4 linked regions of the Homo sapiens genome follow. The protein of the gene in region 4 interacts with the protein of the main gene of each other region in a biochemical or structural test. Each region holds a gene or a part of one and is shown on either strand. Other genes may lie near its edges.

The links.
Region 1: the proteins of CCN3 (region 4) and ITGAV form a complex in vitro, tested with the Homo sapiens proteins (one study listed by BioGRID).
Region 2: the proteins of CCN3 (region 4) and FBLN1 form a complex in vitro, tested with the Homo sapiens proteins (one study listed by BioGRID).
Region 3: the proteins of CCN3 (region 4) and FN1 form a complex in vitro, tested with the Homo sapiens proteins (one study listed by BioGRID).

The regions. Positions count from the first base shown.
Region 1 is NC_000002.12:186,663,052-186,670,075, reverse strand, and holds part of ITGAV (integrin alpha-V isoform 1 preproprotein), read right to left. Parts: intron 6,309-7,024; coding exon 6,241-6,308; intron 5,583-6,240; coding exon 5,435-5,582; intron 4,951-5,434; coding exon 4,858-4,950; intron 3,373-4,857; coding exon 3,293-3,372; intron 2,927-3,292; coding exon 2,846-2,926; intron 2,406-2,845; coding exon 2,300-2,405; intron 1,315-2,299; coding exon 1,156-1,314; intron 376-1,155; coding exon 262-375; intron 1-261.
Region 2 is NC_000022.11:45,498,544-45,505,902, forward strand, and holds the start of FBLN1 (fibulin-1 isoform D precursor), read left to right. Parts: upstream 1-4,339; 5' UTR 4,340-4,442; coding exon 4,443-4,521; intron 4,522-7,359. UniProt on the Homo sapiens protein: Incorporated into fibronectin-containing matrix fibers. May play a role in cell adhesion and migration along protein fibers within the extracellular matrix (ECM).
Region 3 is NC_000002.12:215,426,045-215,433,068, reverse strand, and holds part of FN1 (fibronectin isoform 1 precursor), read left to right. Parts: intron 1-1,104; coding exon 1,105-1,236; intron 1,237-2,216; coding exon 2,217-2,354; intron 2,355-4,730; coding exon 4,731-4,889; intron 4,890-7,024. UniProt on the Homo sapiens protein: Fibronectins bind cell surfaces and various compounds including collagen, fibrin, heparin, DNA, and actin. Fibronectins are involved in cell adhesion, cell motility, opsonization, wound healing, and maintenance of cell shape.
Region 4 is NC_000008.11:119,412,044-119,419,460, forward strand, and holds the start of CCN3 (CCN family member 3 precursor), read left to right. Parts: upstream 1-4,402; 5' UTR 4,403-4,489; coding exon 4,490-4,573; intron 4,574-4,700; coding exon 4,701-4,926; intron 4,927-6,014; coding exon 6,015-6,266; intron 6,267-7,087; coding exon 7,088-7,302; intron 7,303-7,417. UniProt on the Homo sapiens protein: Immediate-early protein playing a role in various cellular processes including proliferation, adhesion, migration, differentiation and survival. Acts by binding to integrins or membrane receptors such as NOTCH1.

The sequences.
Region 1 (7,024 bases), on a different chromosome or scaffold from region 4:
AGGACAGTTAAAGAACTAGAGTAGGAGAATCAAAGTTGGGACATAAACTAGTTTTATTAGCCATCTACAAAAATAGCTCATTTGAAGAAAATATGGCATTAATCTGACTAGGAAAAAGGAAAGTGAGAGGAATGCATGGTATAAAAATAAATGTAGTTGTTCAAGCACAGCTGTTGTTATTTTTGAAATGTTCTTTGGCGTCAGTTCTATAGTCACATATTTTTAAATGTCTATGGTGCACATATTTGAAATGGCACTTACCAAAGTGTGAATATCTCCTTCACTGAGGGCAAGATCCCGCTTAGTGATGAGATGGTCCCGCTCACCTTGCCCGGCAACCGTGTCATTCTTTTCAGTTGTTTGCAAAGATGAGATCTAATGCAATCACATTAATAAAATGGTGGTAAATGATAATGAAAAACATTTTACATCAGCATTTTGATATAAACTCTTAGATATGATTAAAAAATAGTGAATGAAAATTTAGTATGACAGAATATTTACCACTCAGTATATAGTGAGCAGTAAGGACAGAAAATAAAGATTAGAGTCTTTAATATGTACCAAAAAAGTTAGCTCTCCCTAACCATTATTTTCAGCCCTTGCTTAGCTAGAGTGGAAACTGATGAAACATACAGAAATGGCCTGAAATTCCACAGTACATTTGTGATGTCAATCATGGGTATATCTTTTATTTTGTTTCTTCACCTTTCCTTAGATCATATTGTGTAATAGTTTCTAGTGCAAATCTATGATGGAGATGACTATATCCAAAAGTCAAGATAATCATGAGTAAAATGGTATAGCTTATCCCAAAGGTAGAAATTTTAACAACAAAACACCCTTGATGTGATATTATGCCCTGAAGAAACAACAACGTGATGGAGCCAAGGTCAAACTGAGTCACTGAAGGACACATCTCATGAGGCTCAGTAAGCACTCTATGAAGATGTGGTTCACTAGACATCACAGAATCAATTCTTACCCATTATACAAATGAACTTATCCTAAGTGTACTGCTTATGAACTAAACCATTTTTTGCAGAGTGGGTTTTATATTAAAATAGTTGTTTTATTTTATGAATTTCTTTTACAGGTTTAGAAAGAAGGCAATGAAATATCATTGTAATGAAGAGCTGCTATTAAGCATATTACCTTAATTCTCAAAGGGTTGATCTCCATATCTGAAGTGCAGTTCATTGGTCCATCAATATCATAATGAAGGATATACAACAGAGTGTTATTATTATATTTGTAAGGCCACTGAAGATGGAGCATTGCCTTGCTGAATGAACTTGGACCATTGTTTCTCAGCTAAGGAGAAAAAAGAAAATGTATCTACACCTTGGGCAAAAATCTGTTCCATAATCCTTCCCCTACATCAACTTTAGAAATCATGTTAGCAATAGGTTTTAAATAACAGCAATTTCCACAGTTAACCTCTAATTACAATGTGACCATTTTTATGCAAAAATGATCAAACTCAACATTTGTCTCTAACACAGAGTAATATGTGTCAGGATAAAAATATAAACAAGGTTGGGCACAGTGGCTCATGCCTGTAATCCCAGCACTTTGGGAGGCCGAGGCGGGCGGATCTCTTGAGGTCAGGAGTTCATGTCCAGCCTGGCCAACGTGGTGAAACCTGTCGGTGAAACCCTGTCCCTACTAAAAATACAAAAATTAGCCGGGCATGGTGGTGCACACGTGTAATCCCAGCTACTCAGCAAGCTGAGGCAGGAGAATCGCTTGAACCCGGGAGGTGGAGTTTGCAGTGAGCTGAGATCGCGCCACTGCACTCCAGCCTGGGCGACAGAGCAAGACTTCACCTCAAAAAAAAAAAAAAAAAAAAAAAAAAATATATATATATATATATATATATATATATATGTATGTATGTATAAACAAAAGGCAAAATATTTAAAAGTTATTAATGAAGGATGACAAAGAAAATTTCTTCCTATAGAAATAGTTTTGATTATTTGCCATAGGTATTTTCAATTTTTAGCCAGAACTACAAAATGCCCATGAGAAAGTACCAATGACATTTCTTTATTCAAGTAGAACTAATTTATTTTAAACAACAAATTATATAAACTGCTTTATTTAAACAAGTCTATTTGTCAAATAAAAATGAATTTATGTATAGGGAAAATATTCAAAGAAATCTCTGACACATACTTAACCAATGTAGAGTTTACATAAAAATTACATAGAATTTTTTTTTTAAAGTAGCTTAGTTGTTCCTCTCTTCGTTGGCTTGCTCACGAGGTTTGAGTAAAATCTAACAACTGCAAACCTCATAGATGTGCTGAACAACTGGCCCAACATCTTCTTCAGTCTCAGGGTTCTCCTTGTGCTCCCAGTTTGGAATCGGAAGAAAGACATGATCAGGACTCGAGACTCTAAACAATGACCAAAGAAAACCTACCATGAATATCAAAATGATATAGTCAGTTCATTTTCAAAAGTACCCCATATTCATTACTCAAATAAATAAAATTAGATTTAATTTTAAAAAATACTTTAAAAGAAAACTAATGAACACACACATGCACAAAAACTGCTCTTATGAAATGTACACGTAACAGGTGAATTGACAATTTGTGTAAAAGTTCAACAAAATTATTTTGTGCATGTTGTTGCCATGTCTTGTTCCTTTTGAGGATCACCCAGTATTGGGGGTTTGGAACATACCTAGGATTTTATTTCTACAGAAGCTAATGCCCTAGTAAAACCACCACTAAACATGCAGGGTCTATTGTCCAGAAAAGGCTAAGGCCTGACAGTTACCTTTAAAAAGCAATCATGAGAATGAGATACTCAACTAAGTATTCATACTGACCCTCTTATCTCAACTGCAGCTAAAACAGCAAGATCAACTTTGTGAGATACAACTGGGCTTACTTTGTCAAATAGATTTGAGCTGAAAAAGAAAAAAAAAAACTTAAAAATGAATTATGCATAACAACCAAGAACATACAGAGGCAAACCCAGTGAAACTAAAAATTAACAAACGAAACAAGTGTAAAGCTTATACCTCAAAATAGTTATTTTCATTAACACTTAATTCCAAGAAGATGAACATTTTCTTTCTGGATTTTAAATTTTGTTTTACAAACTCAAATCTGACAATAAAATTATTCTTATAATGTAAATATTGATTTTAAAATGCTATAGTCAAGCAATAAAATTTAATCTGCTACTTTATATTTAAAGTATATTACATAGTATATTTACAACAAATAATATTTATTTGATAGTTATAAGTGAATATAAGTTGTTTTCATACCTTTGGATTTGTAAGTCAAATTTCACAGAAGTATCCATCTCTGACTGCTGGTGCACACTGAAACGAAGACCAGCTAAGAGCTAAAGGAGAGAGGAAAAGATAGTAATGCTAGTCAATGTCTAATTAGCAAAATTTCAAATCCAATGTCTAAATAAAAAATAATGTTCTAAAATGGGGTTTTTCTGAGCTTACAATAAAACTGAACAAAGATAACTAAATCTTATTTTCTATCAAACCTATTTTACTTAATATACCTGGACCAATCCATAAGAGAGCCTATTTAACAACAATTATTAATCATAATTATACCTCCTTATAATACTAACCATCTTTCTAAAAAGTGCAAAAGTAAATGTTTGTTGATCCAGTGAAAGTCTAGCAACTGGGTACAATAATTTGATAACACGAAGCTAACCACCAAAGTATGTGCTGTGTTCATAGGCCAGGAAAGAAGAAATGGATGGTTTACTAGAGTAAGGGAACATGGCTAAAGAAGGCATGAGTAGGGCCACAACCAGAATTTCTCCACACACCTCTCATAACACTCCCAACACCAAATATCCTAATTCCTGCAGGCAGAAAATTGGTAGATTTTAAATAAAACAATTGAACCACCAGGTACAAAAAAGAAGGCTTCTTGGGGATCACACAAATGACATATAAAAACAGTACTTCCTGGGTTCTGCCTCCCACTCCACAAAACCTGGAGCTGGCTACTTGTAATAAGCAGAAACTATATAATAACCAGAAAGTTAGAGAGAATGAGAATATGAGAAAATAAAAGGCATGCTCATTGTTAATAAAACATTGAATACACGTGAAAAACTGAACTTAGGGTAATTTGTTCAAGTTCTCATCCCTAAGATACCATACATCTAGAAATACTAATGACTTGTAATAGAAAACATACTAAAGAAATATGGAATATTTAGACCTGTATTACCACAGATCTTCAAAGTACCAGTATCAATAAGTCATTAAATAAATTCTATTGAAAAAGTCACACAGCATATGCTGCCATTTTGTCCTTGCTACTAGAAATTCTACAAGGTATATTTTGTTTACTTTTTAGAGGATTCGGAAAGCAAGCCATTGGCTGCTTCTTTTCAAGCTCCTGGGCACCCTGCTCCACCATCTGAAGGGGAGCCTGATTTAACTGACCTTCACTTTGATCCTCTGTGTGGGGCCTGTGATGGAATCTAGCTCACCTAGGATTGACAGTCTTGGTAGTTGCCAGAGTAGCTTTTCAGGATCCATTAAGGCATCAGTGTAAAATAGCAAAAATTATTATTTCAGTCCTTAGTTTAAACCACGTTCTCATCCATTCACTAAAGTGAAGGAGGCATAAAGAGCAGCTGATTGCAAACCGTGTAGGAGCACAACCAATTGTTTTCGTATCTTAGTTAAAACTAAGCAAAACTCTGCTAATCATTTAACTATTATATCGAAACCAATTTAAGGACATTGTTTTGAAGTGTTTATTTTTAAAAATTACTATGAGCCCAGACAACAATATGCTTTTCTATTTGCCAGGGAGAAAAATCCGTTTAATTAAATTGTCTTACTTGAGTTCCAGCCTTCATTGGGTTTCCAAGGTCACATACCACCTGGCGAGTTTGGTTTTCTGTCTTAAATGCACAGGAAAGTCTTGCTAAGGCCTTTGATAGACCAAAAAAAAAAAAAAAAATGGATATGAAAGGAAATAAAGTATCACGCAGTTGGATATTTCAGTTTCTTGTCCTAAGCAAATAAATCTAGTTGAGCAAACCAGGAGGTAAGGAAAAAGCCAGAATTGGGTACAATTGCCACATGGAAATGCAGAAGTGTTTCTGAAAGATCCCTAGAGGACTACCATACAAAACCATACAGCCTCTGACAAATAATTTGATGGACAGGCTTAGACACTTTATCTATCTAACCTTGTTTCCAGGCACTTAGCTTGCAATTCTAAAAATGTCATATCAATGCATTATGCAAAGTATTAGGCTTAAAAGGAATTATGTAAGATAGGCACTCCATTGTCTATCAATTTAGCCTTAGGTAGAATAGCTAAGCTTGTGCTTCACTAAATAGGGGAACAGCTCATTAATGTTAATAAGATCCGTGAGTGCATTTCAATTTTTAAAGAGGCAGCCTGCTTACTTCATTGTTTCGGACAACCCCGATGAAATCAGCCTGCAGTGGAATGGAAACGATGAGCTCAGCTTCGTAGGCACCTTCTCCTTGATTCTGAGCCTTAACAATCAATGTCAGAGGGTTGTCATCCCCAATATAGATCTTCTTTTGATCACTACAAGTTAACAATACAAATCCAGACTGAGAAAAAAAGACTACATGGGGAAAGTATGACTGTTCAAAGAAAGAAGAGATAAATACACAGCACTGACATGTTCAACAGTGTCTCAAGGTATTTTAAGACTACTTCACAGCTTGATAGAAAACAGAAAATAGCACACTGGGTGCAAATCGAATGCTTCTCTCAATAAAAATAAACATTGATGCCACTAATATATCACTATCATTCATATCTATTACTGAAGTGAATTACATGTACTTTGTAATTCCCCAATATTTTTCTAAAAGCTAAATTAATCACGTGTCATAATTCTCACAATATTCTTTATAATTCATATGCCTTACAAAATGGTAAGGATATTCCTTGAGTTCAAAGAATGTTTATGATGAAGTGTATCTTTAAAATGATACAATATTATTTTGTGATATTACCCAAAGTTGAATGGTAATAACTCTTTCAACCTAGGCAACTAGTGAAAACACAGTGGATATTTTCTTTAGAAGCTCAATATTGATAGTTTTAGTGTTATAGAAAATCAGGCATTACCCTCCAGGATAACTAATTCTCGTTAAAATATGTTAGTCCTTTGAATAGAAAAATGTGCCCTTCCATTTAAATTTCTTACTACATTATTATTTCAAGCAAAACTTACCTATCTACAGAAACTTCCAGCTTGGGTTTACAGACATTGTCTTCACCACAGTCAAGTAGAATGTGAGCCTAGAAAAAAACATTTTATTTTTCTACATGAAAAATACCAATGCAGGTGGCATAAGCAGTGTTTATCAATATCTATGTGGTTAAGCCTATATGTACACATGTATATATTTTCAGATACTCATCAGCTTGTTTGTTGTATACCTGAATGCAAAAGAGACCATGGCCACTTATTTTTAAGCAGGTCAGTGTAGCCAGTCAAGAAAGAGAAAGAAGAAAAAGATTCATAGGATATGATACAGTTCCTTGGAACCTTTCAGTTTTATCTCAGATTAAGCTGTTATCATATTTGAATGAAGACTGGTGTAGAAAAGAAAGTAATAGCCAAGAAATGAGGCTTCATTTTTACCCTGCTGCTAGTTAAGTTGTGAGATGTTGGGCAAAATAGACTCCCTTCTAGAGTTTCTCATTATGGACTGTGCCTCTACCAATATCAGGAAATAGGGCTGCAGAGGATAAAAGAATAAGGAGCTGTAGATATTCAGCAGCAATTCAGACAGGCAGAGAGACCAAGGGGCAAAAGAAACTGGATAAAATGAGTCCAGCATTGCATGGTCATTTGGAAAAAGATGAAGGAAAAGGAACTTGAAGCATTATAGTTAACCAATCAGGGTAGGTGAAAAAAACAAAGACCTGAACTTTTTCCCCACTAGATCTGGCCAGGAGAATGTTCCAGCTAGAGCAAAATGGAAACACCCAAAAGAGAGAAACAGTGGGAA
Region 2 (7,359 bases), on a different chromosome or scaffold from region 4:
ACACAGGAGAACACTGAGTTTGGGGAATTTACCGATTTTCCGGTAAACTTGTCCAGAGGGAGATGGTACCTCCTCCTTTGAGGTTGCTTTTTGCAAACACGACCCTGAGACACGGGTACAGAGTGACCAGGGCTTTGCATTTGTGGCATACTCAGCAAGAATGTGCAGGAATGCCCGTGCCCATGATGGGTTCTTCTCCCAGCACCTGGGTGTGGCTCACCTGGACTGCAAGAATCTCAGGCCTATGATCTTCCAGTGGGCCTCTGGAAGCTGGATGTGCTGAGAACTAGAGAAGGGGGCCGAGAGTCAGCCTGGGTTTTGGGGTCTGAAGCATGCTTAGAAGCATCCTGGTCCATCTCCTGCATTTTGCAGATAGGGAAACTGAGGCCCAGAAAGGGACTTGCCCAGAGCCAGACAGTGAATGAGGAGGGGGTCAGGACTGGTGCTCCCCTGTGTGGTCCTGAAGGCACATCACTGTCACCACCAGCACAGCAGCTGACAGTGATTACATTACAGAGTTTTCTCTGTGGGGCTTATGTGATGAGAGTCAGCATCTCCTTCAATTCTCACGACCGTGCAAAGTGCAAAGTCCTAATCCTTGCCCCACGTGACAGATGAGGAAACAAGGTACCAAGAAGTCAAATGCTCAATGCCACAGAGCCAGAGAGTAGCGAGCTTGGATTGGAACCCAGGTGGTCTGGCCTCAGACCCTGTCCCAGGCTGTCAGGACCTCTAGCTTGTCCTGGGGGATAGGGGTCCATGGTGGTGCCTACTTCCCTGACACCCAGTGCCTGGCTTTCCAAGTCACCAGCCACAGGGACAAGAGGATGTGGAGAGGCCATGGAGGACAGGCCTGGGATGAGGACTAGAGTGAGTGCCTAAAAAGGGGGCGCCTTGGCTGGGCGCCACGGCTCACGCCTGTAATCCTAGCACTTTGGGAGGCTGAGGCAGGCGGATCACAAGGTCAGGAGTTCGAGACCAGTTTGACCAACACAGTGAAACCCCGTCTCTACTAAAAATACAAAAAATTAGCTGGGTTTGATGGTGTGTGCCTGTAATCCCAGCTACCCCCGAGCCTGAGGCAGGACAATTGCGTGAACCCGGCAGACAGAGGTTGCAGTGAGCCAAGATCGTGGCATTGCACTCCAGCCTGGGTGACAGTGTGAGACTTGCCTCAAAAAAAAAAAAAAAAAAAAAAAATGGTGGGGGCTGTGCCTCAGAACAGGAGTAAGCTCTTGAAGCTTCAGGAAAGGCTGGGAGAGGCCAGGTTTCCATGTCCTCTCTCCTGGCTCTGGCCTCCCTCCCCAGCTGTTGCAGGCTTGGCTCAGCCCTCCTCCTCCCAGCAGTCCCTCTGCCTGCCTAGGGCAGTGTCAGTGCCTAGCTGAATGTAGGAGTCACCTCCTCCTACTGTCCCTGTTTCCTCATCCCCACCCCCTTCTCAGCCACCCACAACACAGCCACTCCCTCCCCATCCCCAGAAAGGGCCCCGGTCACATCGCCAGCGGCCACCTGCTCCATCCCCATTGGGACTTCTCAGTCCTGGCTTCACTGAGCACTGGGCCACACTGGGCAGTCCCAGCCAGAATCACTTTTTTTTTGCTATCACCCAGGCTGGAGTGCAGTGGTACAATCTTGGCTCACTGCAACCTCCGCCTTCAGGGTTCAAGCAACTCTCCTGCCTCAGTCTCCCAAGTAGCTGGGACTACAGGCATGCACCACGATGCCCAGCTAATTTTTGTATTTTTAGTGGAGATGGGGTTTCATCATATTGGCCAGGTTGGTCTCGAACCCCTGACCTCAAGTGATCCACCCACCTCGGCCTCCCATAGTGTTGGGATTACAGGCATGAGCCACCACGCCCTGCCCAGAATCACTTTTTGATTCCTTCTTGGATATTGCCTTCTCCTGGTTTCCTTCTACCCCTCTGCCTGTTTCTACGTCTTCTTTCTGAATCCCCCAGGTCCCCTGGTTCCCCCTTCGCCCTCCACCACCTTCCCTTAGTCATCTAGACTCCTTCCAGGGCACCCCATTCTCCGATGGCTTAAACGAATTAAGTTAATACCAAAGTAGTAATGAGTTCCCAACCTGTTCCAACTCAGAAATGCCTCCCTCGGGCCATCTGCTGATGTGCTGTTTCCGCACCCCACCCCATCCAAAGTCAAAACGGACCAGGATCTCTGGTGCCTCCAAACTTTTGCAGAGACATCAGGAAAGCTGGCACCACCAAGGAAACCCTTCCCACCTCTGCTCACCTTTCACTGGCCAGTCGCATGTCACCTCTTCCTGAGGGGCCTCCTTAACCTCAGAGGCGTGAGCATGCTGGTCCCCTTGGTAAGCTTTCCTGGGCTCTCTGCAAACTTCAAACTTATAAGACACCCTGTGGGGAGATGAGTTCTTGTCCTTTTGTTTTTCATTTTAAAATTTAACATGTGACCGGGCACGGTGACTCACGCCTGTAATCTCAGCACTTTGGGAGGACAAGGCGGGTGGATCACCTGATGTCGGGAGTTCAAGACCAGCCTGACCAACACGGAGAAACCCCGTCTCTACTAAAAATACAAAATTTGCCAGGCGTGGTGGTGCATGCCTGTAGTCCCAGCTACTCAGGAGGCTGAGGCAGGAGAATCGCTTGAACCCGGGAGGTGGAGGTTGCAGTGGGCTGAGATTGCGCCACTGCACTCCAGCCTGGGCAACAAAAGCAAAACACCATCTCAAAAAAACAGAAAGAAACAACATGTATTCAGAAAAGGGCACGTACCATAAATGAACAGCTCAATAAATTCTCACAAACTGAGCCCAACCTTGTAACCAATACCCAGAGTAAGAAAGCTGAACCTAACCAGCCCCCGAAAGCCCAGCACGCTCCCACTCCAGGATCACCACTCTCCTGACCTCTGAACTGTTCTTGCCTTTTTTTTTTTTTTTTTTTTTTTTTGAGACGGAGTCTCACTCCGCCGCCCAGGCTGGAGTGCAGTGGTGAGATCTCGGCTCACTGCAACCTCCGTCTCCCGGGTTCAGGCGATTCTCCTGCCTCAGCCTCCCGAGTAGCTGGGACTACAGGTGTGCACCACCATGCCTGGCTAATTTATTTTTATTTTTATTTTTAGTAGAGACAGGGTTTCACCATGTTGGCCAGGCTGGTTTCGAACTCCTGACCTCAGGCAATCCGCCCACTTCATCCTCCCAAAGTGCTGGGATTACAGGTGTGAGCCACCGCCACCGGCCTGTTCTTGCCTTTTATGTAAATGGAATCATGCAGCGAGTGTTCCTTTGTGGCTGACTCTATTACTCTGACTTACGTCTGTGAGATTTACCCGTTATGTGAGTTGCGGATCATTCACTCCTGTTCCGTTTGTCGTGCTCCTAAGCCCGAATACTCCACGATATTCATCTGCCTTGATGACGCTAGGCTTCCCAATTGGAGGAATTATGAATGTGCGGCTACATGTCTTTCTGTCTTTTGGAGCACATGTTGTATGCGTTTCTGCTGAGTGTAAGGCTGGGCGGGGCGTCGGTGGCTCAAGGGGTCCATGGTGAACTCACAGGAACACCGCTTTGAGCTGCCCAGTGGCGTTCCTATGCGTCTCATCCAGTTCCTCCGCATCTTCACCTGCACCATTTTATTCTTCTTCTTTGGAAAATAAATCTACTTGTGGTTCCAAAGCCTAACTCATCCTCAGTAACCCCGGTAGCTATGAATTCCTATACAAGAGGCTCCCGCAGGCCCAGCGCCAAAGCTGCCTCCCCTGCAGCCTCGGTGACTTCCCGGGTCTCTCCCTCCGGCCCTGGTGTCCCGGGTGAGCCCAGCACACGTTGGGATTTTGGTTGTTTGTTGGCCTGGCCCGACTGTCCCTGTCTCTGAGGGCAGAGTCGGGTCCCATCCCGGGACACGCCTGGGGTTAGCCACCGACCTGCAGCCTCCCGGCCGAGGGTGCGGGGTTGGCGGTAAGGCCTGCCCCAGTGCCCCCCAGCAGCCGGGCCTCCGACTGCAGGCCCGGGTCCCCGCTCCTCCGCGCGGAGTCGGGCGGGGATAACCTTTGATCCCGAGCCCTCCCCTCGAGAGGGGGTGGGGGGAGGAGGGGATCGGGTTTCACGGAGTGTTGGGGGATAGGACTGGGGGCATCCGGCCCGAAGGCGCCCCCTCTGTGCCCCCTCCGGGGAAGTCTGGGATCCAGGCCCTCGCCCCCAGCCGTGGGCGCGCGCCCCTCGCAGCCGGGGTCCGGGGAGGGAGGGTCCCGGCAGGGGGCGCCGGGGAGGGAGGACCAGGAGACCCGCGGCCCCGCCTCCGCCGCGCCCTCCTCCCGGGCGGGATAATTGAACGGCGCGGCCCTGGCCCAGCGTTGGCTGCCGAGGCTCGGCCGGAGCGTGGAGCCCGCGCCGCTGCCCCAGGACCGCGCCCGCGCCTTTGTCCGCCGCCGCCCACCGCCCGTCGCCCGCCGCCCATGGAGCGCGCCGCGCCGTCGCGCCGGGTCCCGCTTCCGCTGCTGCTGCTCGGCGGCCTTGCGCTGCTGGCGGCCGGAGGTAGGGGCGTCCCGGGTCCGCCGCCCCAGCTTAGGGTCCCGACCCCCTCGGCCTCGCGCTCCCTGCGAGTTTCGGAACCACGGGGACTCGGAGTCCGTGCGTTGCCCTGCGCGGCGCCCCCGGACTGTCAGCGCCGAGGCCTCGGCGACGCCCCCCTCCCCCACGGCCAGCTCCGGTCCTCATCTCCTCCCCGGCCTGGGGACTTGTTTCAAAACCGGATTCCCCCACCCCTCAAACACACCGTCCTACCCCAGTCCTAGCAAATCCAGCCGGCTCCGGGGGCCGCATCCCGGGCCCTGGGGGTTCAGGGGCGCTAGCTGGGCTGGGGGACGCTGGCTGGGGGTTACCGAGCCCAGGGCGCCTTGCACTTGACGCTGGAAGCGCCCTCGGCTATCTTTCCTCACCGCTTCCCGCCTCCACCCCCAGGTAGGAGCTGTTGTACCCAGCTTGCGGATGTGAAACTTGAGCCTGGAGGGTGGGAAGCAGTCTTTTCCCCAGGAGACACTAGCGGTCCTGGGATAGGGGCTGGAGAGGAAGAAATGAGAAAGCCAGGGAGCAGCCTGGAGGTTTTTGGGGCGTAGCTGGGAGGATGGAGGGGATGCGGACCTGGCCACCTCCTCCCTGCCTCCCTCCCGGGACAGAGGGCCCAAGGCAGTGGTTCTGCCGGGCTCGGTGCTCAGCGGGGACTGGGGACTGGTCACTTCCACCAACGGCAAGGGGGATGGAGTTTTCCAAGAGCAGATCTGATCGATGGCCCAGACCTTAGGCCCCAACTCTGGGACTGACAGCTCCGGGACAGTGCCCACCCAGCCCGCGCTTTTCTCCCCTCTAACCCTCAAGGCCTGGTCCCTGGGGGGACTGCCACGAGGTCCTCTGATCAGAGCAGCTGCTGGGCGGCAGAGCTATGACCTGTGACCTCTCTGCTGACCCGTGGCTTCTCAGAGCCACTAGCCAGGCCCGGCACTCCTGGCGTCTTTGTTTCTCCAGTGGCCCAGGTCCAGGGGAGTGCCCTAGACCACCCTCAGAATCCGAGTCTTAATCCCTGGTTTAGTTGAGTTCCTTTTAACCTCTGGTGACCGCCTTTGTTAGTCAAAAGGTCGCTTGTCCCAACTAATGCTCACTGGGGGATTCCAGGAAGGGGGCTGAAGGGGGCTGGAGGGGGAGGGGAGGCTGGGAGCTGAGCTCTACAGAGCTTTCTTGACTGGCTGGCTGCAGCAGAGCCCTGTGGAGCTCTGATTGTTCAGGCGGTGCTGGGCACGGCCTGGGCACCTCGTGGGGTTGGAGATGGTGTGGGGAGGCGCAGAGCTCAGTGTTGGCACCAGGAGCCTTCGCAGCCCCTGGGGGCTCCCTGGAGGCTCTTTAGAAGAGATGGAGCTTGATGTAAGGGGAGCGCGGGAAGAGGGCATTCCAGCAAGCAGCAGGCCGGGTGGCTGCCAGCTGGAGGGAAAACCCCGAGGGGCCCTGGGTGATGGGTGGGTGGGACATCCGAGACTCCTGTTAGAAAAGGAAGGAGCCTCAGAGGCCCCGATTGTGTCGATGAGGAAGCTGAGGGCCTGAGAGAAGGCGTGGTAAAACTCTCCCTGGCCCCGGAGTCTCTGCGTTCCCTCTCACTGTTCTTTTCTGTCTGCGGTTTGCGAACAATTTCTCCCTATGTGTGTGTGACTGAATGAACACCCCAGGACTTGCGGGCCCAGTGTGGCTCACTGCTGAGCCACAGAGAAGTTTGTAATTGGAAGGGTTTAAAAAAGCCTCCTAATTGCACACTTCGATAAAAGCAGCTGGATGTCCTGTGGGCCTTTTGTTTCTTTTGGGGAGAAGTCTCTTTGAGTTTCAACAGGTTTAATTTGGTACAGTTTGGGAAGGGGCTTTTGAAGACTGCCTGGCCCCTATCTGCAGCTGTGAGGCCCCCGAAGCCCTGTATGTAAGGCCACAAGTGGCACCGCCCCTGCTCTCAGAGAGCTGTGGGGCCGCAGATGGTGAGCCTGTTAGCTGATCTGCAGAAACTCCTTTGGCGACGGCCGCTTAAATGGAGAAGGGCGCTGATCTTTCTTGCCAAACGGCCGAGAGGAGCCGCCTGTCTGTCCTGTGTCTGTCCGTCCCGTTGGGCTTTACTGAGAGCTGGGTGGGAGGGAGTGGAGAGGAGGAGGTGTTAGGAAAAGACGATTGTGTTTTCTCCAAGGCTTTCTTGGCCTCTGGCTGCAGCCGGGCAGCGTTTCCGACTGATTAAAAGAAAGTTGGGAGGGAGAACAAAGGCCAGGGAGGACTTGGCTTGAAAACGTGTGGTCTGTGCCGCCACTCCTGGAAGTTTCCCAGTCAGGAGGTGGGGGCCAGGGCACTGAATGCATGAAGATGAGACTCTGTGCCATGGGGGTCAGGGCTGGGGCCTCTCCTGCAGCACCCACAGCTCTGGCTCACGCCCCGCTCCTGGCCCTGCTGAGTGCCCCCCAACTCAGGGCTGCATTTGCCACCCCTGTTAGGTGTGTAGGGCAGGAGTAGGGGCACGCGGCTGACTCATCTTCAGGTCCTGGAGGGCTCCACGGGCCTTGTGAGACTAGAAATCAGTTTGCATCAGAAAAAGCCATGAGATGGTTTGGTGGTTTTCTCATTTATAAAATGAAGGGAACAAAAACCTACTTAGGTTGTCTTGAGGATTAAGAGAGAGAACATAGGATAGTGTCTACCATGGCAGCTATATTATTATTATTATTATTTTATTTTATTTTTGAGACGGAGTTTCGCTCTTGTCGCCCAGGCTGGAGTGCAATGGCATGATCTCGACTCACTGCAACCTCCGCCTCCCGAGTTGAAGCGATTCTCCTGCTTCAGCCTCCCCAGCAG
Region 3 (7,024 bases), on a different chromosome or scaffold from region 4:
CATAGTAGAACCAAGAGACCTCTTGGGTTCCATTTCAGTAAGACATGCTTAGGGGAGTTGCCCATTTTAAATCACCTGGATATCTTCAAGCTAGACAAATCATGAGACTTTTCTGCAGTGACTGGGAAGGTGTTCATGAAGAGTGAACCAGCCATGTGTTGTCTGGTCTTCATGTTTGCAATGCAGAGACCTCTTGCACCTCACAGAAACAGTCTGGTTTCTTGGTGACCAGTAGGTTATACCCAGGAAGCAGATGTCACTATTCCTAGGGATAATACAAAATTATTAACCCAATAGAGTTTGCTAAGGAACTTTGGGAACCGGGCTGATTCTCAACTCTAGTTTAGCTAAGGCACTCTTTCCAGTATGATTCACTGGGTTACCAATAGATTCTATTAAGATAGTATTTAAGTTTTTTAATCCATTCTTTAAATATAAGTCGTCTTAAAGACTTCTATTCAAAAGAACAAGTCCCGTGTGAATAGGCCCAATCAACTTTCCCCATATTTCATGTTAGGGTTTATCCAAGTTCACAGGCAAATCGCAAGAGGCAAGGGTCCATAGTGTTTACAATCTAGTTCAGCATTTGAATGTGCCATTGGGCTTAACAACTTAGAAAACTACCAGGATTTCCACACTTTATATGCATATGTCTGTTTGCTTTCCACCAAAATGACATTTCTATCCTAGGGTAAAATACAGGCTCTCCATGCTCCCAAAAGCTGGAGTGCTGTGCCTGATGTGGCCTTTTCACTGAATTAGTCTCAGTCTTAGCCTGCTGTGTATGAGTGAAGACCAAGCCTCCCAGCCTTTCTTTTCTGCTTAGGACCCAATTTCCTGTGATCTCTCTGGGAAAGCAGGATTCATGACCTCTTCCTTGCCATCCAGATTTCTCTGTGGTTTTCCATTGTGTTCTAAGCAAGACACTTAACTGAATTGACTCCAAGTGACCAGACCTGTTAACGTTTCCCCTGTCTCTGATGGGAAAGCTGTTGTCTGTGTCTCTACTTTAGCCAACCTAAGTACCTACCATGGGTGGAATATGAGACCAAAAAAAAAAATCTGTTCTGCCCTCTCCTAACATTTTCGTTGTATCTTCAACAGACCGCTGCCATGAAGGGGGTCAGTCCTACAAGATTGGTGACACCTGGAGGAGACCACATGAGACTGGTGGTTACATGTTAGAGTGTGTGTGTCTTGGTAATGGAAAAGGAGAATGGACCTGCAAGCCCATAGGTGTGTGAGTCTTAGGGCTGAGCAAGAGCTGGGATGCTTAGTTCTAATGTGGGGTTGGACCAGAATCACATCTACATAGGTCATAGACCTGAATTCCAGTGAAAACCAATAAAGAAATGGGAATTTTGTTTGAAATAATGAATTATTATATAATCCATAGTCTTCTTACAGGAGTTAGATCAAAAAGTACTGACTACACATAGAAGTCTTAACTTTGCTTCAAAAGCATAAGGTAGAATTGAAAGATTTAGAATGGAGTCATTTCTTTTACCTAATAGCTGATCTCAGATTCCTCCTTCGTCAAGATATAATTTATTTAAAAGAAAAAAAAATGACACTTTGGACACATTTCTATATGGAATGTCCTGGACCGAAACATGAAATAGTGTGTGCTTGTCACACTCTGCTCATTTCTTTTCAAATTAAAAGTTGTTGAGCTTCTTTGGATCTCAATCCTCAGTTGAATTTTGTAAGTACAAGCCTGAAAGTTTCTGGCTATAAATTTTACTCTGTTTACTTGTCTTCTAATTTAGAGGTTTTTGTCTTGTTTTGTATTGTTTTGCTTTCCAATATTTAAAAATAGCTTTCTTTGTCATTGTATTTAGGCCACTCAAAATTCATAATTGGTCATTTATAATTAAGATTGGAATTTTGCATATGTAGTCTCCCACAGACTAGATACATACATAGATCCTTGCTACTGGAAATGCTGCTGGGAAGTTTGGGGCTCGCTGAAAATATGTAGTCCATGTACTTATTAGGAGAATGGAATTTCTGCCTGCCAACTCAGCTTGAGCTTTCTTTTGCCTTGGCTACTTACTGTGTGCTTAGATGCTGGGTGTGTCATTCTTTCTGAACAGAGTGCCACTTAAAAAAAATGTGGCTGAATTTTTGCTTACACACTACACTTTAAATTACAGGGAGCTTGCACAATTCAAAATAACCTTTTTTTCCTGTTTTTCTTCCAAATTTCCCTACAGCTGAGAAGTGTTTTGATCATGCTGCTGGGACTTCCTATGTGGTCGGAGAAACGTGGGAGAAGCCCTACCAAGGCTGGATGATGGTAGATTGTACTTGCCTGGGAGAAGGCAGCGGACGCATCACTTGCACTTCTAGAAGTATGTTTTACATCTTTATGTTAAAGATTAAGCCAGGTATTGTTTTCTGGATTCCTAGAGAGAAGGGTAATACTATGTTACTCAGAACACATCCAGTATATCAGCATGCTTTGGTAACTTCTGGAAGTCAAGAAAACTTTCATAACCAACTTATTCCGCATCTTCAGAGAAGACTACATAAATAGAAAAACATATCACTTTGATAAGGTTCAATCTCAGCTCACTGCCACTGACATAGAGTTGAACAAAAGGTTTAGGTTTCCTTCTATGTTTGAAATTTAAATAGGGCACATTCACAGGCTAAATTGATAAAATTAAAAAGAATTTATCCCATAAATTAAAATGATTTATCTACTCTGGAGTTAGGGATAGTGTCTCTGACCTAACGCATTTGATTAGTGCTGTAAAGAAGCTGGCCTCTGGTGTCTTTACTGCTCCTTCTAAGATTGTCTTGGGGTCTTAATTGTTGCCTTTGGGTTTGAAGGCTCCTTTTTTGATATTGTAAACTAATAACAGCTAGAGAGTTTGTTGAAGTAAAACAGCCATTAACTACTGGTGTTGTAAATAAGTTTAAAATCAAATCCAAATAATTTGAACCTGTTTTATTTATCTAGCTGAACCCATTTAACTACCTTTAACATAGCCATCATCCAAATTCAAATTCTTTGCTAACAAAAATAGGTCTCTCATGAAAAGTGGTAACCATTTTGACCAAAGCTTTCCCAGAAACTTGCTGGTTTATTAGATATTTTGCATTTAAAATGTTACTGTGATCATCAGACTTCCAAGATCTTTGTGGCAATATTTTAGCTTAAGACAAATTAGATGTCTGATTCAAACCTTATCTGTTATTTAGAACTCTTTAAATAGCAAGTTGGGAAAAGTTTCTCAAAGAGAAGTCATTTATTCCAGAAAATTTTATAAGGACTTACTTTGTTCAAGGTATTATAGGGGTGCAGATATGAAATGAACATTAGCCCAGCCTTCAAAGAGTACTTAGGGGGTCAGGGAGATGAGAAAGTCTTATACATATTTATCATCTGCAAAACACAGTATTAAAGATTTCAACAGAAATACTGAAAGTAGTGCTATGGAGGTTCAGGGGATGATAATACTTTTCGCTGGGGATTTGGGAAAAAGCTCTAATCAGTAATTATACCTTCATGCAAACTTCTATTCTTGTGGTAGATGGATGTGGGTGTGTATTTGTTTGAACCTACATCAACTATTAATTTTTTTTCTCTAACCCAGGAGTTGCAACAATATCCAATTCACAAAGACATCAGATCCTCTATACTCACATCGTGGCACAGAGCAAATTTGGATTATAATTTAAATAATCTATTTACCAGATAAATGCACGCATAGACTAATGGTCATTTAGTTACAAATTATCATTTTATGTTGATCCCACTCTTCCAGTGGAGGGCTAACACTGAATAATTTGGGGCTATTTTGCTAGTGATTTTTAAATACTGTAGATGTTTGGGTATAGGGGAAGGGAAAATAATATTTTAGTCAAAGAAATTGTGCATCCTCTACATTTTTTACATAACAAATGAAGAAAGAGATACTACCACCTTCTTATAGCTTCTTTGTAGCCATTGGTGAAGACCCTTTGATACCTGCTTGCCTCCCCATTGTTATAAGCTTTTTTTTGTTTGCTTGTTTTTTTTGTTTTGTTTTGTTTTGTTTTGTTTTTGAGACAGTCTCACCCTGTCGCCCAGGCTGGAGTGCAATGGTGTGATCTCAGCTCATTGCAACCTCCACCTCCCGGGTTCAAGCGATTCTCTTGCCTCAGCTTCCCGAGTAGCTTGGATTACAGGCGCCCGCCACCACAGCCGGCTAATTTTTTTTGGTATTTTTAGTAGAGACGGGGGTTTCACCATGTTGCCCAGGCTGGTCTTGAACTCCTGACTGCAGGTGATCCACCCTCCTAAAGTACTAGGATTACAGGCGTGAGCCACCGCGCTTAGCCTGTTTTTAGTTTTCTAAAGCAAGGTCCCTATTGAAAGGCAGGCCATAAACAGTGATGACTAAGAAAAATCCTGGAAGAGCCTGAGAAGGAAAAAGATGAAATATAATGCCAGAGAATGAAGTTAGTCAAAGGAACAGTGTGAAAACAATAAATAAATAGATAAATGAAAATGTTATTTGACAGAGAGATGAAACTAGACTAAACCATTCAGCTGCCTTTCCACTGTAACAAATGTAATTTCATCTTTCAGAAGTGTAATACCTTGCAGCACCAGAGCTGAATATGAACATATTACCAAAAATAGATTACCAGGCATAGATAGCATTCCTTTTTTAAGTTTGAATTGACCACTTGCGACTCTCGACCTGATGTATGTATGTGCTTCCTTTGTGACACAGATAGATGCAACGATCAGGACACAAGGACATCCTATAGAATTGGAGACACCTGGAGCAAGAAGGATAATCGAGGAAACCTGCTCCAGTGCATCTGCACAGGCAACGGCCGAGGAGAGTGGAAGTGTGAGAGGCACACCTCTGTGCAGACCACATCGAGCGGTGAGGCACAGGACGAGCAGGGGCGGGAAATGGGGAAGCAGGTCAAGAAATATTTCCGCAAATCCATCTTTCCTTTGACATGCCATTTGAGGATAATTTGCAGTGTTTCAGCTAATAACCTAAGATAATTTACACATTATTGGTTGTTAAAACTTTTTTTAATGTCAAGTTTTAAATTTTTCAGAAAAAAAGAAAAATGACATACAAATAAACCTTAGGGGGAAAAAAGCCAGATTTATCTCCAAAAGATAAAACTGAGTTTTAAAGAATGCTAGCATCATAAAACTTACCATGGATAGATCACGCACACACGCACACACACACGTATTTTGAATATCCAAAGTTCATTTGAAAGGAAATGAGAGTTATAATTAATTATATGACTACCTGGTTCTTCTGCTAGGAAAGGACAAAAAAAGTGCATTTGGATTTTTTGTTTGTTTGTTTTTGAATGAAATATACTTCCCTGTCCCGACATTGAACTCTTTTTGTAGTGGAAACCATCCTTTATATGTGGTTTCTATGCTCTGGCAAACTTTGTTACATTCTATAAAGTAACACACAATTATTTCCTTCATGTATTGGCATTCGAAATTTTAGAAATTCAGAGAGGACTTAGAGATGGCCATGAAAGACATGATATCTAAGCATTCTTTTTAAAAAACAAGTTTTAATCATTTTTGGCATGAGAAAAAGATTTTTACGTCATAAATGTTTCATAAAAATCTGAAGAGAGAAATATGGCCAACAAGGACGTGCACTCCTCTCATTATTTTTAATATGTTTTGATTAACTTTTTACTATATGATGTGCCAACATCATTACGTAGTGTCTCAGCCATCCTTCAATTAAAAATATTAATTGTTCTAATTTTTCTTCTTTTGATGAGTTTTTGTCTTGCTTTGAGCACTTATGAAGGTGAACAAGATTAGATTTGATAATATCTTTGAGTTATTTTATTATCATTAATAAAATTGCTACTGGCCAAAAAAAATTATAAACATCGGCCACGCGCGGTGGCTCACGCCTGTAATCCCAGCACTTTGGGAGGCCGAGGCAGGCGGATCACGAGGTCAGGAGATCAAGACCATCCTGGCTAACACGGTGAAACCCCATCTCTACTAAAAATACAAAAAATTAACCAGGCGTTGTGGCGGGCGCCTGTAGTCCCAGCTACTCGGGAGGCTGAGGCAGGAGAATGGCATGAACCCGGGAGGTGGAGTTTGCAGTGACCCGAGATCGCACCACTGCACTCCAGCCTGGGTGATACAGCGAGACCCCATCTCAAAAAAATAAAATAAAATAAAAAATAAAAAAAATTATAAATGTCAGTCTACCAAAATAGATTAAAAGTGTAGGTGGGAATTAAATGGGGATAAACACTCAATAAATGTTAGCTATATATGAATATTGCCAATACTGAAAAGATTCCATTGTTCAAAAAAGTTTGAGAAGCAATGGGTTAAACAAAATGGAACCTGCTCTGCAGAATCTGTGTGTTCCTTTACATCATACTCTCCATGGTAGAGTGTAGGGGATGGGCGCCATGTCTCCCTAGTACGTTTGACCTTGGGATTCTTTGTCTGTGAACATCTTTGGGTTCTAGTGTTCAGCAGCACTTAGGGAGGCACTGAATTCAGTGTACCTTTGGTCTAGCCTCAGCCCTGATTCTGTTCTGCGGTGGGCCCTGGCCTTCAAGAGAACAGATATCTAAAAGTTGAAAGAAAAGATCGGCCGGGCGCGGTGGCTCACGCCTGTAATCCCAGCACTTTGGGAGGCCAAGGCGGGTGGATCACAAGGTCAGGAGATCGAGACCATCCTGGCTAACACGGTGAAACCCCGTCTCTACTAAAAATACAAAAAATTAGCCGGGCGTGGTGGCGGGTGCCTGTAGTCCCAGCTACTCGGGAGGCTGAGGCAGGAGAATGGCGTGAACCCGGGAGGCAGAGCTTGCAGTGAGCCGAGATTGCGCCACTGCACTCCAGCCTGGGTGACAGAGTGAGACTCCGTCTCAAAAAAAAAAAAAAAAAAAAAAAGAAAAAAGAAAAGATCAACACATCCTGTTGTGTTATTCTGAAAGGAAAGCTGTCTTAAGAGGATCAATTGGTTTTAGAAAAAACACAATAGAATCACAA
Region 4 (7,417 bases):
GAGGTGGATGTTGGGGATGTTACTGTAAATACGACATGCTCTGTGTCCTCAAGGACTCCCAGGCAGGACAGGGAGGCAGTCACCAAAACAGACAAGTACAGTCACATCTTACATAACAATATTTTGGTCACCTACGGACGGCATGTACAATGGTGGTCCCATAAGACTGTAATGGAGCTGAAAAATTCCTATAGCCTAGTGACATAGTAGCTGTCATGACATTGTAGCACACTCATGTGTCTATGGTAATGCTAGTGTAAGCAAACTTACTGCACTTTCAGGCATATAAAAGTATAGCACATATAATTATGTATAGTCCATGTTTGATGATGATAATAAGTGACTATGTCACTGGTTTATGTATTTACTATACTTTTCATCATTATTTTAGAGCATACTTCTACTCATAAAAAAAAGTTAACTATAAAACAGTCTCAGGCAGATCCTTCAGAAAGTATTTCAGAAGAAGACATTGTTATCTGAGGAGATGACAGCTCCATGTGTGTTATTACCCCTGACAACCTTCCAGTGGGACAGGATGTGGAGTGGAAGACAGTGACACTGATGATCCTGACCTTGTGTAGACCTAGGCTAATATGTATGTTTGTGTGTTATTTTTCACAAAAAAAAAAAAAATAAAAATATTAAAACTAGAAAAAAGCTTATAGAGGCCAGGCACAGTGGCTCATGCCTGTAATCCCAGCACTTTGGGAGGCCGAGGCAGGTGGATCACGAGGTGAAGAGATTGAGACCACCCTGGCCAATATGGTGAAACACTGTCTCTACTAAAAATACAAAAAATTAGCTGGGCGTGGTTGTGTGTGCCTATAGTCCCAGCTACTTGGGAGGCTGAGGCAGGAGAATTGCTTGAACCAGGGAGGCAGAGGTTGCAGTGAGCCAAGATTGCACCACTGTACTCCAGCCTGGTGACAGAGAGGGACTCCATCTCAAAAAAAAAAAAAAAAAAAAAAAGCCTGTAGAATAAGGATATAAAGAAAATATTTTTGTACATCTGTACAATGTATCTGTGTTTTAAGGTAGGTGTTATTACAAAAGGGTCGAAAAGTTAAAAAAATTAAAAGTTTATACAGTAAAAAAGTTACAGTAAGCTAAAGTTAATTTATCATTGAAAAAGGAAATTTTTGAATAAATTTAGCTTAGCCTAAGTGTAGTGTTTATAAAGGCTATAGTAGTGTGCAGTTATGTCCAAGGCCTTAACATTCACCCACCACTGACTCACTGACACCCACTGCAAGCTCCATTCACGGTAAGTGCCCTACACAGGTGGACAATTTTTTATCTTTTATACCATATTTTTACTGCACCTTTTCTAAGTTTAGATATGTTTAAATCACAAATACTTACCATTGTATTACAGTTGCCTACAGTATTCAGTGCAGTATATTCTGTACTGTTTGTACGTTTGTAGCCTAGGAGTAATAGACTATATCATACAGCCTAGGTGTGTAGTAGGCTACACCATCCGCATCTGTGTAACTACACTCTATGATGTTCACACAACAATGAAATCACCCAAGGACACATTTCTCCAACAATATCCCCATCATTAAATGGTGTGACTATAATGATTATCCAGTGAGTTATGAGATAAAAGAGATAAGCTCGGCATCCCAGGCCTGCACTGCGGATAACATCTATCCCGGCATGAAGGATTTCAGAGACTATGTCCTGGAGGCAGTGAAGCATGACATGACATGATTATCATCAGATGGTATCACTTTCAATTTACAATTGTTTTAAGATGAAGATCCTCATCCTAGAGCATTTATAGCAGATGATGGAGTGGATGTGTATTGTTTTGCTCACCAAGCTTGCTTTCTTTTTAAGGAACAGTCCTTTCTTCCCAAGAGAACTGCTCTTTCTCTCCATTCCAACCATGAGGTTCTAACTAATCCCCATACTTCACCTTCCTTGTCCCCATTGATTAGTCCAGGGTGAACCCATCCAATTTAATTCCTGGAACTTTTAAAGTTGGGCCTAAGAGACAGGGACATTCCTTCTGTGGTGATAAGGTCATAAAGTAAGAAGATTGGAAGGATCATTTTTCCCTTATGTGGAAGTAATCCTGTTGGCCCTCCTCTCTCTAGATCCCAATTGCCTCTGAGGACTCCCTGTACCATTCCTGTGCTGTCACTATGTGAAACATCACAGCATCCTTCCAGTAAAGTCCTCTTTTCGCAAAAACTAGTTCAAGTTTGGTTTCCATCTCTTGCAATCAAAACTGAATAGCAATTTTACACTTGCAGTGACTTCTTGACATGTTAATCCTTGTCTTAAAGTTACATTTTCCCTGTCACCACTCCCACCCCACTCTTTCCAAGAAGAGCTAGCCCAATCTCCATGTTGCCAATTTCTCCTTGTTCTATCTGAGTCTATTCATGCTTGGAACACTTGGCCGATGCTCTTTGCCTCCCCATTAGCAGTGCTTCTAGTTGCTCCATTTCAAAGTACATTAAAATGCTGTCTACCAAGAGCCACCACCAGAGAATCCTACTGAGTGGGTCAAGAGTGGGGCTCAGGAATCTGTATTTTTAACAAAATACATGCTGGTTGATTCGATCTGCAGCCAGATGGAGGCATCATTAGGCCAAATGGCTTACAAAACCTATCAGTTTTTTTGTTTTTTGTTTTATCTTTTTCTTAAACTTTTATTTCAAGTTCAGGGGTAAATGTGCAGGTTTGTTTACACAGGTAAATGTGTGTCATGGACATTTGTTGTGCAGATTATTTCATCGCCCAGGTATTAAGCCTGGTACCCATTAGTTATTTTTCCCGATCTTCTCCCTGCTCCCACCCTCCACCCTCCAAAGCCTATCAATTTGAAGAGTAGGTAAATGTCCTACTCAAGAGTGCAAATGAACTGTTTCATCTCTAGTTAAGTTTGAGTACTACTCAGTCTCATTTACCTCAAAGAAAGCAGAACTATTAGAGGCTTGGAAGTGTGTCATAGTGGTTTCAGGCTGCCGAGAGAATTATCTAGAAGGGGCTTGAGGTGACCTCATCATCTGCGGGTGTTGCAGAGGCAGACCTGGCCCCTTCCGCAAGCTGCCTTTGATTTCCTTCATGCTGGGGACAGATGAGGTAGAGGCCATTTGTTTCTTTTTAAACTCTAGAATTACATCACAGGCCTGTATAATTTTCCTTAAAAAGTGTTTTTTGTTTTTTTCCAAAGCAACTATCCTCAAAAGAGCTGGGCATAGTTCTCCTAGGGGCAGCACCAGTGTTGAAGTGTGGGGGGAAACTGTTCTAAATCCTTCAAACAATGTCACCTTTGGAGCAGTAAAACTGCTCCCTTTTTCCCATGAGAGATGACAAGCATGCCCCAGCAATCATTTCTTGAAAGCGGATGCCCGGTGAGAGAAGGATTTGATTTGCTGAAGGGTCAGCCAAGTTAAGCCAGTTTCTTCCTCATTTCTTCCCTGGCTGGAGGTTTTGATGGTGGTGATGGTGGTTGAACTGAACCCACTTAGAAAACTGTCAAAGGTTTCTGGACTCTCAGGTGTGCCGTCTCACATTTGGTCTGCTACAGCAGGTGCTTCAAGGCTTTCTTCTGCCAAGATTTCTTTGTTTTATTTTATGATGTTTTCTTTATGTGTGTGTGTGTGTGTGTGTGTGTGTGTGTGTGTGTGTGTTTTACTTTTATTTCTAACAAACCTGTGGACCTTGGGGTTTAAGACTGAGTGAAGCTAGAAGGATTAGAGTCAAAAGAATTTTGCCATTTGGCCAATAGCATTCCCCACCTCCTGACATATCGATTTTTTTTCTAGATTCCCTTCCCCCTGCCACTCCCCTCCCCCCAACACACACACACTTTTCTCTTTCTCCTCTTTCTCTCCTTTCCTCCCTTGCTTCTCTCCCCTCCCTCTCAACACATTCAATGAGTGCCCTAAACGGTGACAAACTTGCATGTGCTTCCCTCATGACTAAACCCCTGGGCCTTCTGCCAATCCCCTGCAGATGGCCCCAAACTGCAGGCATCCCGTAAGGGGACCCCACGCTTGCAGCCCTGGTTGGAACGGTCAGGGTGGAGGAGGATGGTGGGGAGTGGTGGTGTCTTCGTCCTGGGAGAAGGCGAAGCAACTTCCAGGAGGAAACGGGCGTTTCCTTCCCACGCGCTCGAGCGAGCCCTGGGTCCTGGCCTCGGAACTCCACCCAGCCCCTCCCCACCCTCTGGGAAAAGCCAGTCGCCACACACAGGCACACGCAGGCCCCGGCGCCGCGCCCTAAGGAGAGCAGCACCCACAGCCAATTGCCATGGCAACCCCGGGGTTCGTTCCACTTCCCCACCCAGCCGATCTCCCCCCTCCTCCCTGCACTGCAGCCAACCGGCTTGTGCGCGTCCCAGGAGCGCGCTATAAAACCTGTGCTGGGCGTGATCGGCAAGCACCGGACCAGGGGGAAGGCGAGCAGTGCCAATCTACAGCGAAGAAAGTCTCGTTTGGTAAAAGCGAGAGGGGAAAGCCTGAGCATGCAGAGTGTGCAGAGCACGAGCTTTTGTCTCCGAAAGCAGTGCCTTTGCCTGACCTTCCTGCTTCTCCATCTCCTGGGACAGGTAAGTGGCACACCCTTAAGATGCCCCCAAGTTACTTTGCCCGCCTTGGTGGCCCCCATTTGGTCACCGGGCTCACTGCGTCTTCTGTCCCAGCTGAGTGGTTTCTCCTTGTCTCGCCTGCCTTCAGGTCGCTGCGACTCAGCGCTGCCCTCCCCAGTGCCCGGGCCGGTGCCCTGCGACGCCGCCGACCTGCGCCCCCGGGGTGCGCGCGGTGCTGGACGGCTGCTCATGCTGTCTGGTGTGTGCCCGCCAGCGTGGCGAGAGCTGCTCAGATCTGGAGCCATGCGACGAGAGCAGTGGCCTCTACTGTGATCGCAGCGCGGACCCCAGCAACCAGACTGGCATCTGCACGGGTAATCCTGCTCCCTCTGCTGTTTGACCTCTTCTCCTGCAGCTAAGTGAAGCTGCTTCCTCCCTTCTCTTTTGTATTCCCCTTCCCAGAGGGCGATAAGCAAATAATAATAATGCAATAAATGACATGTATAGAGCACTTACTGTGTGTCAGGCATGGTTTGGGGAGCACTTGGGGCTTTGGGGAGCGCCAGAGCCAGAAAGGAAACCTGCCCTGGGGGTGAAAGGCATTCCTCACTTGGCTTCCTAGACAAGAATCTAAGCAAAGGGGGAGCCACGCAGAGTTAAGGGCCAGTGAAGTCATTTCCTTCGGACACTTCTAGGGGGCCACTTGGGGCTGATGGAAGCTCGGGTTTACTCACACGCTCACAGTTTCCCAAACTGCAGTTGGGGAAAACCCAGCAGGTTTGTTTTCACACCTGTAATTGTCCCATTTGAACCAAAGCAGCTGCTAGTCTCCTGGGATAACTATGTAACCCTTTTCTGGCTGCAAGTAAAATAAAATGCAGGCAACTAGCCAATCCAGGCTTCTAAAACGTAATCAGTCGGGGATCAATTTTTCACATGATACAACATTGTAGTTGAAGATTGTCCCTTCCTTTCTGGACAGGAGGGCTTTTACTTTTTTCTCTAAGCTACTGATGATTTTATTATGCTTGAGTGTCAAGGAATCTTAATGCCCTTCCCAATTTGATCAGCTAACCTGTTGGAAAACATAAAGTACACTTTTTCTCTTTTTAAGTCTAAGCTGCTGGAGTAGGAAACTCTAAGGAGGTTCTCGCAAAATGACTGAACATTGGGAAAAATGGCCAGGGGACCTTGGGGACATCACTTCACAGTTGCACACCTCTTTCCTCATCCATAAAATGAGTGGCAAGACTAGATGATCTTGAAGGTTTCTTCTTGCTCTGAGAGGCCTCCATGAGGACATCACTCTACAGTAGATACATGAGAAACCAGATCGCCTGAACTAGAAAAGGACTTGGGTTTTGGAACATGCCCTCCAAATCTTACATAGCTTCTTCACTGTATTGTGTTCTTGTTTTTCCTCTTCCTCTTTGCTTTTCACTTTGCTTCCCCAATATTCTAGCGGTAGAGGGAGATAACTGTGTGTTCGATGGGGTCATCTACCGCAGTGGAGAGAAATTTCAGCCAAGCTGCAAATTCCAGTGCACCTGCAGAGATGGGCAGATTGGCTGTGTGCCCCGCTGTCAGCTGGATGTGCTACTGCCTGAGCCTAACTGCCCAGCTCCAAGAAAAGTTGAGGTGCCTGGAGAGTGCTGTGAAAAGTGGATCTGTGGCCCAGATGAGGAGGATTCACTGGGAGGCCTTACCCTTGCAGGTGAGAAACTCAATATACCTAGGGCTGGTCATAGTAGAGGGTAAATACAAACATGAAGAATTTGCAATCTCTTGGATTTGAAAAGAGAAACTGGCCTCAGTTTCTGGTCATTCAGTTGTGGGTTTCAGGTTGCCCACTGAGATCAAACACATTTGTAGACATTAGATCAAACATATTTATAAACTCAAACTAAGTTATAGAAGGTTGCTGCAATTTCTCCTGAAGAGGACCTCCCAAATTCACTCTTTTGTCTTATTTTTGTCTTATTGGATGACTACTACTTGTATTTTAATCCATCCCACTTGACCCTCATTAGCACTACAAAGACAAAATTTTAAATTCTCTTTCTTTTCTGGATTCTGTACACTACCTAGGCCGTCTCATGATTAACCTCCTTAAAGAAGGCTACTCATCCCTGCACAGGTGTCACTGAAAAGTGTCATCTTTCTAGATGCTGTAGTAAGGCTCAGATGGCACTTCAGGACCTTTTTTTATTCTTATTTTTGTTTTCTCTTATCAATGAAATAGTTTAAATAAAAAATCTCAAGAGACAATAGAGGATTATTTTAGAAGCCATTAATTAGCCAGATTACTTATATTAGCAGTATCCGGAATTGTATACTATTTCTGAGGGCAGACATTATCAGCCATGCCAGAAATAAATAAATAGATAAATAAATTCAGTTCTGTGTCCTGGGAGCATGGGTGTTTAGTAGGTACAGAGTCGAATGAGACCCAGTTTCTAATAATGGCTGAAAAGGACCACTTTCCAATCCTCACATTGTACCTAATATGGCTGTCTTTATTTATACATCCCATAGCTTACAGGCCAGAAGCCACCCTAGGAGTAGAAGTCTCTGACTCAAGTGTCAACTGCATTGAACAGACCACAGAGTGGACAGCATGCTCCAAGAGCTGTGGTATGGGGTTCTCCACCCGGGTCACCAATAGGAACCGTCAATGTGAGATGCTGAAACAGACTCGGCTCTGCATGGTGCGGCCCTGTGAACAAGAGCCAGAGCAGCCAACAGATAAGGTAGGAGCCTGGAGGAAACCTCCCATCCTGAAGGTAATGGCCTTGTGTCCTTGGAGCCTGGGCTTCAGAAAGTCACTGTGTCACTCTGTGACGGAGAGAGCAGCTATAGCGGGGA